Linked DNA regions of Homo sapiens. The gene in region 1 interacts genetically with each later gene. Each region holds a gene or a part of one and is shown in the gene's direction. Other genes may lie near its edges. The genes, in order: DUT and COPE.

The links.
Region 2: changes in DUT (region 1) and COPE together harm fitness more than expected from each alone (negative genetic interaction), as found in Homo sapiens cells (one large-scale study listed by BioGRID).

The regions. Positions count from the first base shown.
Region 1 is NC_000015.10:48,334,265-48,338,077, forward strand, and holds part of DUT (deoxyuridine 5'-triphosphate nucleotidohydrolase, mitochondrial isoform 1 precursor), read left to right. Parts: intron 1-152; coding exon 153-244; intron 245-1,781; coding exon 1,782-1,826; intron 1,827-3,813. UniProt on the Homo sapiens protein: Catalyzes the cleavage of 2'-deoxyuridine 5'-triphosphate (dUTP) into 2'-deoxyuridine 5'-monophosphate (dUMP) and inorganic pyrophosphate and through its action efficiently prevents uracil misincorporation into DNA and at the same time provides dUMP, the substrate for de novo thymidylate biosynthesis.
Region 2 is NC_000019.10:18,898,719-18,902,405, reverse strand, and holds the end of COPE (coatomer subunit epsilon), read left to right. Parts: intron 1-1,956; coding exon 1,957-2,025; intron 2,026-2,458; coding exon 2,459-2,533; intron 2,534-2,679; coding exon 2,680-2,727; 3' UTR 2,728-2,892; downstream 2,893-3,687. UniProt on the Homo sapiens protein: The coatomer is a cytosolic protein complex that binds to dilysine motifs and reversibly associates with Golgi non-clathrin-coated vesicles, which further mediate biosynthetic protein transport from the ER, via the Golgi up to the trans Golgi network.

The DNA.
Region 1 (3,813 bases):
GTAATTCATCATAGCAAGGTTGATTTTAGAAACTAAAGTTGCATTAATTCATTAAATACACTGAAAGTAATTTTGTATGCTTGGTCACAAAGAAAATATAAAAACAATTTTATAAATAGATTTGCAGTTATTTTCTTTCAATATTTTCTTAGTGCCTATGATTACACAATACCACCTATGGAGAAAGCTGTTGTGAAAACGGACATTCAGATAGCGCTCCCTTCTGGGTGTTATGGAAGAGTGGGTAAGTCATTTAAGAAACAGGTAACTATTTGTCAAGTTCTCCTTTGTGATAGATTCTTCATGTTTCATTTGGGGTAATAAGCAGGCAATATTGCTTGGGCTGTGTCCTAAAAGAAGCACCATTTGTGATAGCAAATGCACTCTTTGAAAGGCTTTATTTACATCTCTGCTTTGCCTCTTTTTGACCCTTTTATTTTTCTCCTTCCTCACTGGAGCTTTTAGGCTCACACTGGCCTAGAAGGCTGTTCTCAGAACATGGCATTTTATATTATGAGAGTAAAACTTCTGACCTGTTGGTCCCAGAATGTGTAAGCCTACTTAACCTTTTCTTGTTTGGCCATGGGGTTAGGGTAAGGGATACTCTTCAGTGTTGTAGAGGCACTGGGAGGAGCTAGGACAAAATGGAGTACACGTCAACAGGTTTGATTTTTCTGGAGCGGATCAGTTGTTACCAGACAGTTCTTTGCAAGAGCGTAAGTTCTTTTTGACTAACTTCAGAGTAAACATAAAGGAGGCAATGGAGCTGTGACGCCCTCCTCCAGGGAAAGGAGCTAGACTGGCACTATATTATTAGCCATGAGTGAGGAAACTGCCAGTACTTCAGCCCTTAAAAGATAACAAGATGGGCTCTCATCTCATCTCTTGAGCATCATTGACTCCATTTTTTAGAATTTTTTCAGGGGAAGGGGCAGGAGATGGAGTGAAATAAAGGTTAGTACAGAAAGAGGCAGCATTATTGACAAAGTGCCTGATTTAAATTATTCTAAAATAAAATGCTGGAAGTTAGGATAATTAATTATAGGCCTGATGCTTGAGTCTGCAATAATAAGGTGTAACCTTAGCTTTTTATTTTTTTCATTTTTTAGGATTAAAAAGTATACTAGCATTGAATCATTGAGACTTAGTTTTTGGCATTTTTACTTAACTGATATTAGCCCATTTATCTTACTCTGGTTCATGTGTTTCCTACAGGCATGTCTTTTGGCATCTGAATCATGAATAGTGGGGTCCCAAGTTGTAGGCTATGGTCTGCTACTATTTGGTTAGGTTTGTTTCCCTCTCCCTTCCTCTTCCTTTCCCTTCCCATCTGCATTGTACATGTTGTGGTGTCCCATCTTAAAACCAAAGTCTTCTTCCTCAGTAGTGTGTTCCTGCTGGCCATACTTCTCTTTCTTCCCCTTTGAGGCTTAACTTCTTGAAAGAGCAGCCTACAGTTGTTCCCGCTTGCTCACCTTTCAGCTCATTCTAGCAGTCCTTCTCCCCTGTCTGCAGCACCACAAATTCTGACTGAAGTCACATGGGAGTGGTTTAAGTTAGTTTTGAATTAAAACCTTGTGGAATTTTTCTAAACTAGTCTTTCCAACTTTGGTAATGCAGTATGATGAATATATATTCTTTAATTCAAAACCATGTGCTAAAGTTAAGATGAAGATATAGATATTATAGGTGAAGAGAATGACATGCTTAAATTGCATCAGTTATCTCTGATATAGCCCTTCCCCCTTAAAATAACCAATGTCTCCTTTTTTGTTTTTTAGCTCCACGGTCAGGCTTGGCTGCAAAACACTTTATTGATGTAGGAGGTAATATATTTCCTTTTTTATTCTGTAAATGTTTGCAAGTATTTACTTTGTCTTTAAAAGGTAATATTCAAATGACAGATTTTATTTTTAAGAAAAGAAAATGATTAGAGGAAAGCTTGTTATAATAGGAGGAAAAGCTTTGTGGTTATTTTAAGTAATTATATTTTGTTTAACTACTAACTTAATTTTTAAAATAATGATTACCTAATTAATAATGACAGATTTAATGATATAATAATTAAGTAATTATTTAAGCAACAAAAGTTCTAGAAAACACAGGTCTATCTTGTAAGAATTTTCTTCATAAGAGAGCTATCTGTCTTTAGCAAAATTTAAGAAGAAAATCTTTCCCTGAAGTCAGGAGAGAAAACACTTTTCTCTAAATTTGTTAAGACAGTCCTCTGTGTTACCTGTTTCCCTTATAATAAAGCCTTTCTCATGTTTGTCTCAAAGTTAACCCTACCTCATGTGGTACCTTTCATGAAGAACCCTCAGTGTCCTCTGCTAACTACTCTTGATACAGAGCTACTCCTCTTATTGTAAGGAAATTTCTACTTTCCTGATGTGGTTTCCTTGTTTCAGGTCCGCTCCAACTGGGATTCAGACCCCACTTATGTGGTCCTTACATACTGACCCTTTATCCCATCAGTAGTGAATCTTTCACTTAACAAGATACCTTGGCCCCCACATAAGTAGGTGTGCTAGATCTCCTCCTCCACCCGTTTTTACAGAGCTGCTTTATGGAGGCTTGTTAACAGATCAGGAAAACTGGCTTAGAAATGAGCCCACATGGATATGTGGTAAAAACTGGAGTCTCTGTGTGATTCCAGCCTCCTTGTTCTTTCCACTGCAATTAATTGTGGAGATTACCCTGCTGCATCCCCCTCACCAACTAAACACGTCCAGAATTAGCTCACTTTTATGTGCCACTGCAAGGGCTAACTAAGCACTTAATGAAACCTGGCTATCCTAGACCTGCCCCTTAGTCTAACATTTGGTGGGTGTGGTGTCTCTCCATAGTGTCACCAGGTGGTGCTGTGGGACAAGACAGGACCCCAAAAGTACACCCTTTAGGGACTAAAGGGGAGCTGAGTTTTACATAGCAGGGTGGACATTGACAGCCCACTCTTGGGTTGAGGATTCCTTGGGCTCTGTAAGTTATGCCCGATGTTCAAAAATGCTTTTACAAGGTCAACTGTGGTCATTTTGGGACAGTAACTTAAGGATATAAATAATTGTATATATTTTCAATGAAGTTTCAAATGATTGTTCAAGGAACGGGAGCTTTGGAATAACAACTGGATGTAGGTCCCAGCTCTGTCATTAACTAGTTATTACTTAACCTTTCTGAGCCTGTTTCCTCATTTTACAATGGAAATTAGTGTGCCTGCCTCTAGAGGTAGGAGGATTAAATGATAATGTGTATGAAATACCTAATATAGTACTTGGCACATATTAGATTCTGTGAGATATAATTTCTGTCCTTAGGGACTTCACAGATTGTTTTTATGTGGAAACTTTTTCTTTTATTCGACTTTGTTACTAATTTTTGCTCTGTTTAAAACAACTTTCTGGAAAAAAATTCATGTAAAAGAATGGAAAGTTAGTTTGCCTAGTGGTTGGTATGGTGTTATTCATAAAATCACATTGTGGTGTGTTCTTGGATGCAGAGAATCTTAACAATCTCCCTTAGGCACAAGTTTATCATAGTTGGCAACAGTTTTTATTTCTGAAGAGAGATGTTGTTAGAAATCCCAGGCTCTAAATAAGGGTCAAAGGGAAAAGTTGAGCATTCAGGATTCTGTTCAGAATTCACATCTGGTAGGTGTGGATAGTTTTTCACTAAAAAAGGTTTCCAACAAATGACATGCCAAACTCTTGACACAGTAAAACTTTTGCCTGAAGTCAGTTAATCACTCTGCCAGTTCCAATGCATGATTTTTCCAGTGATAACTTCAAGTTACTTTCTGCTTTCTCTGAGGAGAAA
Region 2 (3,687 bases), on another chromosome or scaffold:
GGCGTGAGCCACCACGCCTGGCCATCTGCAGTCTTTATGAAGAGTTTATGTTATGTTAAATTAAAAATATATATATATTTTGTAAAGACGGGGTTGTTCTTGCTGTGTTGCCCAGGTTGGTCTCGAACTCCTGGCCTCAAGTGATCGTCCCACCTCAGCCTCCCAAAGCATTAGGATTATAGGTGTGAGCCACCATGCTTGGTGGATTTTTTTTTTTTTTTTTTTTGAGATGGAGTCTTGCTCTGTCGCCCAGGCTGGAGTGCAGTGGTGTGATCTCGGCTCACTGCAAGCTCTGCCTCCTGGGTTCATGCCATTCTCCTGCCTCAGCCTCCCGAGTAGCTGGGACTACAGGCGCCCACCACCATGCCCAGCTAATTTTTTGTATTTTTAGTAGAGATGGGGTTTTGCTGTGTTAGCCAGGATGGTCTCAATCTCCTGACCTCATGATGCTGCCCACCTTGGACTCCCAAAGTACTGGATTACAGGCGTGAGCCACTGTGCCCAGCCTGGATTATTATTTTTATAATCAGAAAGGACATCAAAGCTTTTTCCATTTTGGAGAAACGAATTTTGGGGGGTTTTTTGTTTGTTTTTTGAAACGGTATGCCACCATGCGTGGCTAATTTTTGTATTTTTTGTTAGAAATGGGGTCTCACTGTGTTGTCCAGGTTAGTCTTGAACTCCTGGGCTCAAACAATTCTCACCCTCCTTGGCCTTCTAAAGTGCTGGGATGATAGACATGCGCCAGTGCGCCCAGCTGAGAAACAGTTTTAATCTAGTGACAAACACTGGTGAAGCCCTCCTCCCTGTCTGACTTTCCAGGGGCTGAGTTATCATCAGAAAGTTGTTTGCAGAGCGGGGCTGGCCAAGGGGTATCAGGCTGGCCCCATCACAGGCCGGGTACTGCTCCTCCTGAGCAGGGTCCATCTTTAGCTCTGAGCAGTCAGGGCTAGTCAGGAACTCCCAGCCTGATGTGCAATCTCAGACAGGCTGTGTGTCCCTCGCTGCCCCAGGGGCAAGACTGGCGCCCTCCTCCACCACCCTGCCCCTCCCTGCCACCTGAGAACACTTGGATGCATGTTGTGTTCATGGCCGCATCCTCTGGGGGCTTTTGTTACACCTCTCAGGTGACACGTTCCGTGACTCACCAGTTAGATGACTCCCTTCTGTCCTTGTCTCTTGAAACACCACCTGGGGCTGGCTGGCCGTGCCCCTTGGCCCTGGTGGCCTCCCCGTGGCTGTGGTCACCCTGCATTCTTGCTGGGTTTTGGGAGGCACTCAGGTCCCCCCACTTCCCTTTGGAGCCACCTCATGGCTGCTCCTGTGAGCGCAAGCTGGTGTCCCCCTTCATGGTGGAGACTGAGGCTCAGAAAAGTCCGGTCTGCAAAAAGGTGCCCTGCCATGGGCCGCCGTGGGCAGGTCGGGCTCTGGGCGCATCCTCGTTGGTGTGTCTGTGCTCCAAGCAGACACCAGGGCTCTGGCTGGGTCTCCTGGCCTAGATGTTTCCTAGGGTCCTGTGTGCTGGGAGCCTAGAGTGAGTGAGTCAGGCAAGGTCCCCTGCCGAGGTCTCCTTCAAGGCTCCTTGGGAGCTGGTGCAGGGGTGGCAGGTCTGCCCATGGCCTCGGGGTTCGTTGTACAGCAGGAGTTGAGGCCATCTGGGTCTGGGCCCCATGGCTTTGAGATGTGTGGGACAAATACAACCTTCCCAAGTCTCTGTAAACAAGGGGTCGTACCCCAGGCTGGACTACAGATGGGGAAACTGAGGCTCAGCGAGGCGGCTGGCCCCTTGGCACCGTATCATCTGAGATCTCCACCTTGCAGAGCGGTGGGCGGTGTCAGTCCCACCCCACCTCTGAGGAGGTGACCTTGTGTGGTGCTGCCTGAGGTGGGGGTGACGGGCAGGCATGGGGGCTGGAGTGGCTGACCCTGCCTCCCCGTGTCTGCCTGTGTCTCCAGGATAGTGGCTACCCAGAGACGCTGGTCAACCTCATCGTCCTGTCCCAGCACCTGGGCAAGCCCCCTGAGGTAAGCGGCCCCCAGGGCTCCAGGCCAACCCTAATGTCCAGACCCTGGGACCCCAGCCTGGGGTCCAGGCCCTAATCCCTAGGCCCCTGGGAAAACTCTGTATACAGTATGCCTACCGCAGCCCACCTCCCTCACAAACCCTGTGCCCCCCAACCCATCCTCACCTGGGGCCCTGCCCGACCTGCTCCCCTGAACACCACAATACATCCCCCACCATGTACGGAGGCCAGCTCCATGCCAGCGCCTCTCCAGGGGGCAGGCCCATCCCTCCACCCCCACCCTGAAGGTTCTCCGAGATCAGCCCAGTCCCAAGGCAGGGTGAGGAGCCCCCTGGGGTACTGTGGCTCTCACCCCAATCCACCCCTGTCCAGCAGGTCAGAGCCACCGTGGGGTCCCCGTGTTCGGCTCACCTGCCTCCCTGCCTCCCCTGCAGGTGACAAACCGATACCTGTCCCAGCTGAAGGATGCCCACAGGTCCCATCCCTTCATCAAGGAGTACCAGGCCAAGGTGAGTGGTGGGGATGGCCTGTCCCCGAGAACCAGGCCAGGGGGCGCCTGGAGCTCAGCCTGGGCTCACATGCGCCCTCTCTCTCTCCCTCCACCTGTCTCCCCACACCCTGCCCCCACCCTGTGTTGCCATGTGTCTTGCTAAAGGAGAACGACTTTGACAGGCTGGTGCTACAGTACGCTCCCAGCGCCTGAGGCTGGCCCAGAGCTGTCAGGACCATGAAGCCAGGACAGAGGCCAGGAGCCAGCCCTGCAGCCCTCCCCACCCGGCATCCACCTGCATCCCCTCTGGGGGCAGGAGCCCACCCCCAGCACCCCCATCTGTTAATAAATATCTCAACTCCAGGGTGTTCCACCTGATGATGTGCTCTGGTCACTTTGCTGGGGGCGTGTGGGAGCTGACGCTCAGGGAGAGTCCTGGGGCACTGGCATCCAGGGCTGTTCCTGGAGACCAGGGTCTGTGACGAGCAGCAGGTGTGCAGACCCCCACCCCGCCCCTCACACAGCCACAACCTGCTCCTGCAGGCCAGAGGCAGCACAGCCCTGTCCCCATGCTTCACCCTGGCCCCTAGAGGCCACTGAGCAGCCCTGGTTGGCATCGGGGGAAACTGAGGCACAGAGAAGTCATGCCGCTATCATGAGGGGCACCAAGATTCAAAATGAGAACCCCTAGTGGCCTGGAGGAAGTGGGGGCCAGGGCAGGAAAAACTCAGGCCTCAGCTCAGCAAAGCCGGAGGGGCCCTGCAGGGTCAGCGTTAACCCCAGGTGCTGCTCCTGCCGCCCCGCAAACCCTCCTCCAAGGCAGAGTCCTGCTGTGGCAGGGTCCTGGGGCCAAGCACCCAGCCGCGATGAGAGGCGGCCGCACCATTTAGGGAGGGAGGTGGGTGGGTGGCAGCAGGGCTGGCCGGAGCCTCCCAGATGTCACCATTGAGCTGTGCCCACCCGAACAACAAAAAGGAGCTGCCAGGCTAGGTTCTAGGGGGACAGGCACCCTGGCAGTGGGCATGACCGGTGCAGAGGTCCCTCGGTGGCACAGGGCTGTGAGGTCAAGGGGCGCTGGATGGGGATGCATGCCCTTTGACCTCTGAGCCTGGCCTGGGCTTATCTCCCAGGGAAAAGATAAGACTGGGTTTCCCCAAGCCACACCCAGGCCTA